2 linked regions of the Homo sapiens genome follow. The protein of the gene in region 2 interacts with the protein of the main gene of each other region in a biochemical or structural test. Each region holds a gene or a part of one and is shown on either strand. Other genes may lie near its edges. The genes, in order: PPARD and OTUD3.

Region 1 (3,918 bases), on a different chromosome or scaffold from region 2:
GACAGGAAGAGAGCTGGCTGGAGGAAGCGGGAGAGAGGGCACAGGGAGCCAGAGGCCGTGGGTGTCATGTGTCTGAGGGCGATCGTGGGACTCTGCTGCTCCAGGCCGGGTGCTCAAGGGCTGGTCAATGGAAAAGTCATGTGGGTGGGCCCCTCCAGTGCTGGCCCCATTGGAGTCTGCAGGGAGGCCTGGGTGCCGCCGTTAGTACATGTCCTTGTAGATCTCCTGGAGCAGAGGGTGCAGCGAGGTCTCGGTTTCGGTCTTCTTGATCCGCTGCATCATCTGGGCGTGCTCGGTGACCAGTTGCCGCAGGTCAGCCATCTTCTGCAGCAGCTTGGGGAAGAGGTACTGGGCATCAGGGTGGTTGGCCTGCAGGTGGAATTCGAGGGCACGCAGGATGGTGTCCTGGATAGCCTCCACCCGTGGAACGTTCATGAGGCCTGGCCGGTCTGTGGGGACACAGGGCACGCCAGGGAGCTCAGAAAGGCAGTGGAGCTCCCCTACTTCCACCCCAAGAGGTGACTTGGCCCAGGGGACGGCAGGCCTCCTTGGCCGTGACAGACCAAGCCCTGTCCCATCAGCAATGCTCCACTGGGTGTTCTAATCTCCCTACCCCTGGTCTTAATCCACTTCTTTTGTTTTTTGCCAATTTGTCCCCACCTCCCCCCCGATTAGGCAACGTAGTATTGTGGTTAAGAGACTCAATGCTTAATTCAAATCCTGTGTCTGCCTGTGAGGCTATAGGCAGGTCATTCAGCCTCTCTGATGTGTAAAATGGAGACACAAAACATTCTTCCTGCACAGGGTTGTTGTGAGGATCAAGTGAGTCATCATCGATGAAAAGAACAGTGCCTGGCATGAAGTAAGCTCTAGACCACTGTTAGTTAGCATAGTTATTATTGTATTTATTGTGTTGGAATTTTAAAAATGCAGAAAAAATGCAGACAATTTTTCCACCCCACATTAACATGACAGCATACTGCCTGTTAGTCCTTTTCCTTTTTTTTGAGACAGGGTCTCACTCTGTCACCCAGGCTGGAGTGCAGTGGTGGGATTTTGGCTCACTGCAACCTCCACCTCTCGGGTTCAAGCGATTCTCCTGGCTCAGCCTCCCAAGTAGCTGGGATTACAGGCGCGTGCCACCACATCTGGCTAATTTTTTGTATTTTTAGTAGAGACGGGGTTTCACCATGTTGGCCAGGCTGGTTTCGAACTCCTGACCTCAAGTGATCCACCCGCCTCGGCCTGCCAAAGTGCTGGGATTACAGGTGTGAGCCACCACGTCTGGCTTAGTCTTTTTCCTGTCTCCACCTCTATCTACGTACATAATGAGATGGAGCTGATCCTGCATGCTCAGTCAGTGCCTTGCATGTTCCACTGCCAAGATCACAGGGACACTTCCCCACACTGTCAGAGCTCAGGCACAGTGCCCTGCAGTGAGGGCCAACCCCCAGGACGACTGGGTGTGCCAGGCCAGCCCACCTGCCCCACTCTCACTCACCTCCACACAGAATGATGGCCGCAATGAATAGGGCCAGGTCACTGTCATCAAGTTCCAGGGCGTTGAACTTGACAGCAAATTCAAACTTAGGCTCAATGATATCACTGAAGGGTTTGCGGAGGCTGCGCAGGAACTCACGGGTGACAAAGCCACTGCCGTTGGCTACCAGCAGCCCGTCCTTGTTGACGATAGAGGCCAGCATGGCGAAGATGGCCTCGTGCACGCCATACTTGAGAAGGGTAACCTGGTCGTTGAGGAAGAGGCTGCTGAAGCTGGGGATGCTCTTGGCGAACTCAGTGAGCTCCCGCACGGTCTCCACTGTGGTGCACTGGCAGCGGTAGAAGACGTGCACGCTGATCTCCTTGTAGGGAGGCAGGCCATTCACCAACTGCTTCCACACCAGCCCCTTCTCTGCCTGCCACAATGTCTCGATGTCGTGGATCACAAAGGGCTGAAAACCAGGCCCCGTTAGAGATCAGGCCTCGGGAGACCCCCACCCTGTGCTCCCCATGTCCCTTGCCTGCACCATGAAGTTGAGGGAGGGAGAAGGCCTGGCTCTCCCGGAGTCAGGCAGGCGGCAGTGGGACCCAGAGCCCAGGATGCTGCCAGGCCAAGCAGCAGCAACACTCACCGCCGTGTGGCTGGCTTTGCCGGTGAGGATGCTGCGGGCCTTCTTTTTGGTCATGTTGAAGTTTTTCAGGTAGGCATTGTAGATGTGCTTGGAGAAGGCCTTCAGGTCGGCCACCTGTGGGTTGTACTGGCTCCCCTCGTTTGCAGTCAGCCCTGCCACCAGCTTCCTCTTCTCAGCCTCCGGCATCCGACCAAAACGGATAGCTGCACAGGGAAGGGGGCAGTCAGCAAGGAGCCCAGGCAGGCCCCAGCACCTCTGACATCCCCATCCCTTTACAGGTGCATGGGCCAAATCCTTTTGGAGCCTAAGGCCCCCAGAAGCTCTAGAGTCAGCAAGGTAGGAATGATGGGGTGGCCCCTCCAGATCGCAAGCTCCACAAGATGTGATTTTTTTTTTTTTTTGGTGTATCTTTGCAAGAGCAGTGATTTTGTCTGTTTTGTTCACAGTGCCCAGCACACAAGGACTCTAACTTACTGAGTGACTGAGCTACGCTAGCTGGGGTAAGACAGACTTTGGTGACAAAGGCCTGGGCTTGAGTTCCAGCTCAGCAGTTTACTAGCTTTGTGACTTGGGGCAGACTCCTTCACTTTTCTTTTTCTTTTCTTTTTTTTTTTTTGAGACAGAGTCTCGCTCTGTCTCCCAGGCTGGAGTGCAGTGGCACGATCTCGGCTCACTGCAACCTCTGCCTCCCGGGTTCAAGCAATTCTCTGTCTCAGCCTCCCGAGTAGCTGGGATTATAGGCGCCCACCACCATGCCTGGCTAATTTTTGTATTTTTTTTTTAGTAGAGACAGAGTTTCACCATCTTGGCCAGGCTGGTCTTGAACTGCTGACCTCAGGTGATCCACTCGCCTTGGCCTCCCAAAGTGCTAGGATTATAGGCATGTGCCACCATGCCCAGCCTTTTTCTTTTTTTGTTTTGAGACAGGGTCTCACTCTCATCCAGGCTGGAGTACAGTGGCACAATCATGGCTCACTGCAGCCTTGACCTCCTGGGCTAAAGTGATCCTCCCGCCTCAGCCTTCTGAGTAGCTGGGACTACAGGTGCACGCCACCAAGCCTGGCTAAATTTTTTTTTTTTTTTTTTTTTTTTTTGTAGAGATGAGGTCTCACTATGTTGCTCAGGCTGGTCTTAAACTCCTGGACTCAAGCAATCCTCCTACCTTGGCCTCCCAAAGTGATGGGATTACAGGTGTGAGCCACTGCACCTGGCCACTTTTCTTTTTTAATCAGAAAAATGAGGCTAATACTTTTTAAAACTTACTGAGTTATTAGATCAATTAAATAAGAATCCTCACATAGTAAGCACTCAAAAATTGTTGTCATTAGTAATTGAGTAGGATACGAATTCGACTTCTCCTGGAGTTAGCGTAAGGAGAGGGATTCAGTCAGTTCCGAGATTTCCTAAGAAAGGAGTCAAACCCAGACCTGCCAGACCCCATTACCCAGGAGAGCCGCAAATGGAGGGCTCAGGTACTGCTACCCTCTAAGATGCAAGGCAGTTAGGGCATCCCTGGGTAAAAGCTGGCCAAGCAGCTAACCTGCCTGTAGAGATCACAAGAGGCTCTCCCCTGTCCTCTAGGGGTCTTACTCAGAGAGGTACTGAGGGGACAGGTGGGCTTTGCAATATCCTACCCTGGGGTCCGAAGACAAGGCTCTGCAGGAGGCCTGGAGCACAGGGCAGAGAAGGCTCTGTCTCCTGGGAGTGGGTGACCTCCAAGAAACTTCTGCCTGGCTCCTGGCAGTTGACAAATGTGGTTACTTACTGGTTACTGCCTGCCTTCTAT
Region 2 (3,918 bases):
AGTCTGCACATTCTCTTTGTGTGTCAGTTGAAGGCTTGGCTTGTTACATTGGTGAGTCTTGAGTCATAGTTACCTGTTTTTAATGTCAGTGTGCTGCCTACCTTGTTGTACTGTGAGATTCTCAAGGGCAGGGACTGTGTGTCTTTGTTTTGCGGTGTGGCAGTGCCCGGCATCTGGTAGACATTCATAAAGTGAATAAATGAATGGTTCACTATACTATTAAGGACCTGGTCACCCTTGCATCTGGCTGTATCTTTAGGATTATTCTTTTCTTTTAGACTGTGGCTTCAGAGAATCAGCAACATCTTTCCCCCAACTGTACAAGTATCCAGGTCAGAACCTGAGTATTCTTAATGCTTATCTTCCTCCCTTCTCTTACCCGTTCATTACATGTTATCACTCTACCTCAGCAGTTTTTCTTTCACTGCTACTACCCCGTAAAATCAGACCTCTGTGGCCATTTGCTTAGATTTCCTCCATACTGTTCGGTATCATTGTCTCTTGATTTCCTCAGTCTGTTTTCTACATAACAGCCAGAGGGGGATCTAAATGTGTTTTTCCTCTGTATAAAAGCTGTTGATGACTCATCTATTGACCTCAGGATAGAGCCCAGACTTTTTAGTTCTTCATGATCTGGGATTTTCTCATTTCTCTGTCCTCATCTCTTGCCATTCCCCCCAACATTTTCTCACTTCCTCCACCTCTCCATCTCAGCATTCTCAGTTCCTGCCATATTAGAGTTCTCTCTCTCTCTCGTGTCTGTCTCTCCTCTTCTTAGAACATCATCCATTTCTCCTGTCTTAACTCTTCCTTGTCCTTTGGGTATTAGCTTAGTTGTCTCAGTTGAGAAGCTCCTCTGATACACCTTACCTCCCGCTCCTCAATTCCACGTTGGCTTATGTTCACCACCTGGAGTTAGCCAAACTGCAGGGTTCGAGAACACAGTCCTTGCATGACTTCCCTCAACTTTTGGTACCATCTACAAGTTGGGGTCTCCCAGAACCTCCCTTAGGTTCCATAATATGGTAGTAGGACTCACAGAACTCACTGAAAGCTGTCATGCTAACAGTTACGGTTTGTTACGGGGAAAGGATGCAGATCAATACTACTAGCCAAAGGAAGAGATGCATAGGACAGTCTGGAAAGGTTCCAGACACGAAGCTTCTGTTGTCCTCAGGGCATATTCTCCTCATAGCATCTGTGTGTGACAGTACACATAGAATATTGTCACCTGGGGAAGCTCACCCTAACTTTGGTGTCCAGAGGTTTTTGTTTTGTTTTGTTTTGCTTATTGATTTACTGCATGTCTAAGTGGTTGAACTCAGTCTCCCCTCTCACCCTATCACCACCACAAAGGTCTGATGCCAGATGTGGTGGAGAGGCCCGTCATGAATAACAGACACTCTCATCACCTTTGGGAATTCCAGAGGTTTAGAAGTGACCTCCCAGGAGCCCAGGATAAAGGCCAGACCTCTCTTTGGGCAAGGCCAAATTCTTACTGCACATGCCCTTCCTGAAGTACTTGTGCATCATTAGTGCCTATCTTGTTTGCCCCTCACTGGTTGTGAACTCCGCGAGGGCAAATTGATGGAGTGGCTGAGAGCCAGGACCTTGGCATTGGGCTGCGTAGGTGAAACCTCAGCTCCACTGTGTACCAGCTCTTTGACCTTGGCACAGTTTTCAGCTATTCTGCATCTGAGTTTCCTCATGTATAAAATGGTTTGTATAATAGTACTTGTCTATGAGATGTGATTAGATCAGTGCTTGACACATAACAACCATTCACTAATGCAAGCTGCTAAGATTACTGTGTTTATTGTTATGTTTCTAGTGCCTTTTATTGAGTTAGTATATTGGAAGTAATCAGTAAACATTTATTGCAGAAGAAATAAATGGATCTTTGCTTTATGAATGACTAGTGTTCTTCTGAGTAGCAGTCTTGTATTGTTCAACTAGCTAAATTCCTAGACTCTGACAAAGTTAATGGACTTCTCAGATATATATCGTTGTTTCTTATTATTTGGAACTCAGTAAATACCAAAGCATGTTTGCATTTAGATTTTTCCACTATAAAGACGTCATTTTTCTTTCCTATTTCCATGCAGTGGCCAGTTTGGCAAAGCCTGGTACTTTTGCTGGCAATGATGCAATTGTAGCCTTTGCAAGAAATCATCAGTTGAATGTAGTGATTCATCAACTTAATGCCCCTTTGTGGCAGGTAGGTCACCTATTTAAACATTTATCTTAAGCTCTTATTTCTAAGTCAGCTTTGGGAATATCCGAAGATGAGGGGCTTGACCTGTGAACATTGAATTATGCGGAGTAACTTGGTCTACGAGCCTAACCAAAGACAAAAATCTTGTGATGGCTCAGAAGTAATCCCTGTGCTATGTACAAATGGAGTCCGGAGTATAATTTAGAAATCTTTTAAAATGCTATAAATATTCAACAGTCAGCTAATTGGGCAGGTTGGGGACAGAGAACCTAGTGTGGAAACACAGGCTGTCACCCCCTAAAGTCAGAGTGCTGCCTGTTGCTTTGTACCTCAGCTCCTAAAGACTGAGCATGTGGTTTCTGTTAATTCCCCACCCACTCTGCCCTGCTCCACCACTCACCGCTTTCTCACTTTTTCTAATTAAAAAGTTAAAATACAGTACTTGTAGAAAAGTTAGAAAATTGAAAAAGCTCGTAAAGAGAAAAAAATTTTATTAAAAATTATATTTAAAATTTTATTCAATCACCCAGAGAGAGGTTATTGCTGTTAATGTTTTAGTGAGTATTCCTGTCATTCACACACACTTGGCTATAAAAACATTGATACATAACTGGAAAGGAACATATCACAATGTTTTTACACACTTTTAAAACACATACACACATGTATCCATATCCACATATATACGGACACTTCTGTGTTATTAGCATAAAGGTAACAGTGCCCTTTTTTTCATATGACACCTGCATATATTCCTTTGTAAATTGCTCAGTCATAGCCTTTGCTGATTAAAAATAGGTTTATAGGGATATAATTTACATGTAGCAAACTTCATCCTTTTCCAAGTATACAGTTCTATGTGTTTTGACAAACACAGTCATGTAACCACCACTACTATCAACACAGACTAGTCTACTCTCGAAAAAGTTACTTCCAGGCTCTTTGTACTTTGTAATCACTGGCCCCCTCCCCCAATACCCAGCCTCTTGTAGCCCATTCTCTGATTTGTCCTTATAGTTTTGCCTTTCCAGAATGTCATATTAAAGAATGCAGCCTTTTGTCCCTGGCACAGTGTCCTTTTAACAAAACTATGCTACAACAAAGTAAGATAGTGCAGGGATGGTGAGAAATTTTACCTTATGGGGATAGAAGGAGCAGGAGTGAAACAGTATCTGCTTGTGTTCTTTGGGGCAGTGTTGCGGATGTCCTGACATCAGGGTACCAGATAGAGCTATCATATTTTCCATGGGGTTCTGTTTTCCAAGGGCGATGTTTGAGCAAAAATACTGGTTACCCCTTTGTTCTATTTTTTGTCTTTAAACTTACACTGTTTTGCAGAAGTTAACAAAATCATTTGAATACACAGCATAATGACCCTCACCTTGAAGGGGAATACTCACTACCAACTCAGTAATCAGCTTGCCTTTTCCTCCATTGATGACTTTTTTCCCAAAGTTTCTTAGTTACCTAGGTAGTTGTGGAAGACATTTCTGCATAGGTAAATTTTTTTTTGAATTTATTTCTGTAGTGTTCTCTTTCATAAATTCCTGAGCATTGAAAGTACATCTTTTTAAAATAAATTTACTAATATTTCCATTGGATCCCCCTATGTCTTCCTACCCCAGTGAAGCATCTTATAAAATTTAAGAACTGAAACTGCATTGGTTGCTACTTTCATGGTTATGGGCTCTTTCATTAATAAA

The links.
Region 1: of the proteins of OTUD3 (region 2) and PPARD, one has a biochemical effect on the other in vitro, tested with the Homo sapiens proteins (one study listed by BioGRID).

The regions. Positions count from the first base shown.
Region 1 is NC_000006.12:35,422,363-35,426,280, reverse strand, and holds part of PPARD (peroxisome proliferator-activated receptor delta), read right to left. Parts: intron 2,336-3,918; coding exon 2,133-2,335; intron 1,953-2,132; coding exon 1,502-1,952; coding exon of another isoform or gene 1,494-1,501; exon of another isoform or gene 881-1,493; intron 450-880; coding exon 202-449; 3' UTR 1-201. UniProt on the Homo sapiens protein: Ligand-activated transcription factor key mediator of energy metabolism in adipose tissues. Receptor that binds peroxisome proliferators such as hypolipidemic drugs and fatty acids.
Region 2 is NC_000001.11:19,892,263-19,896,180, forward strand, and holds part of OTUD3 (OTU domain-containing protein 3), read left to right. Parts: intron 1-2,105; coding exon 2,106-2,218; intron 2,219-3,918.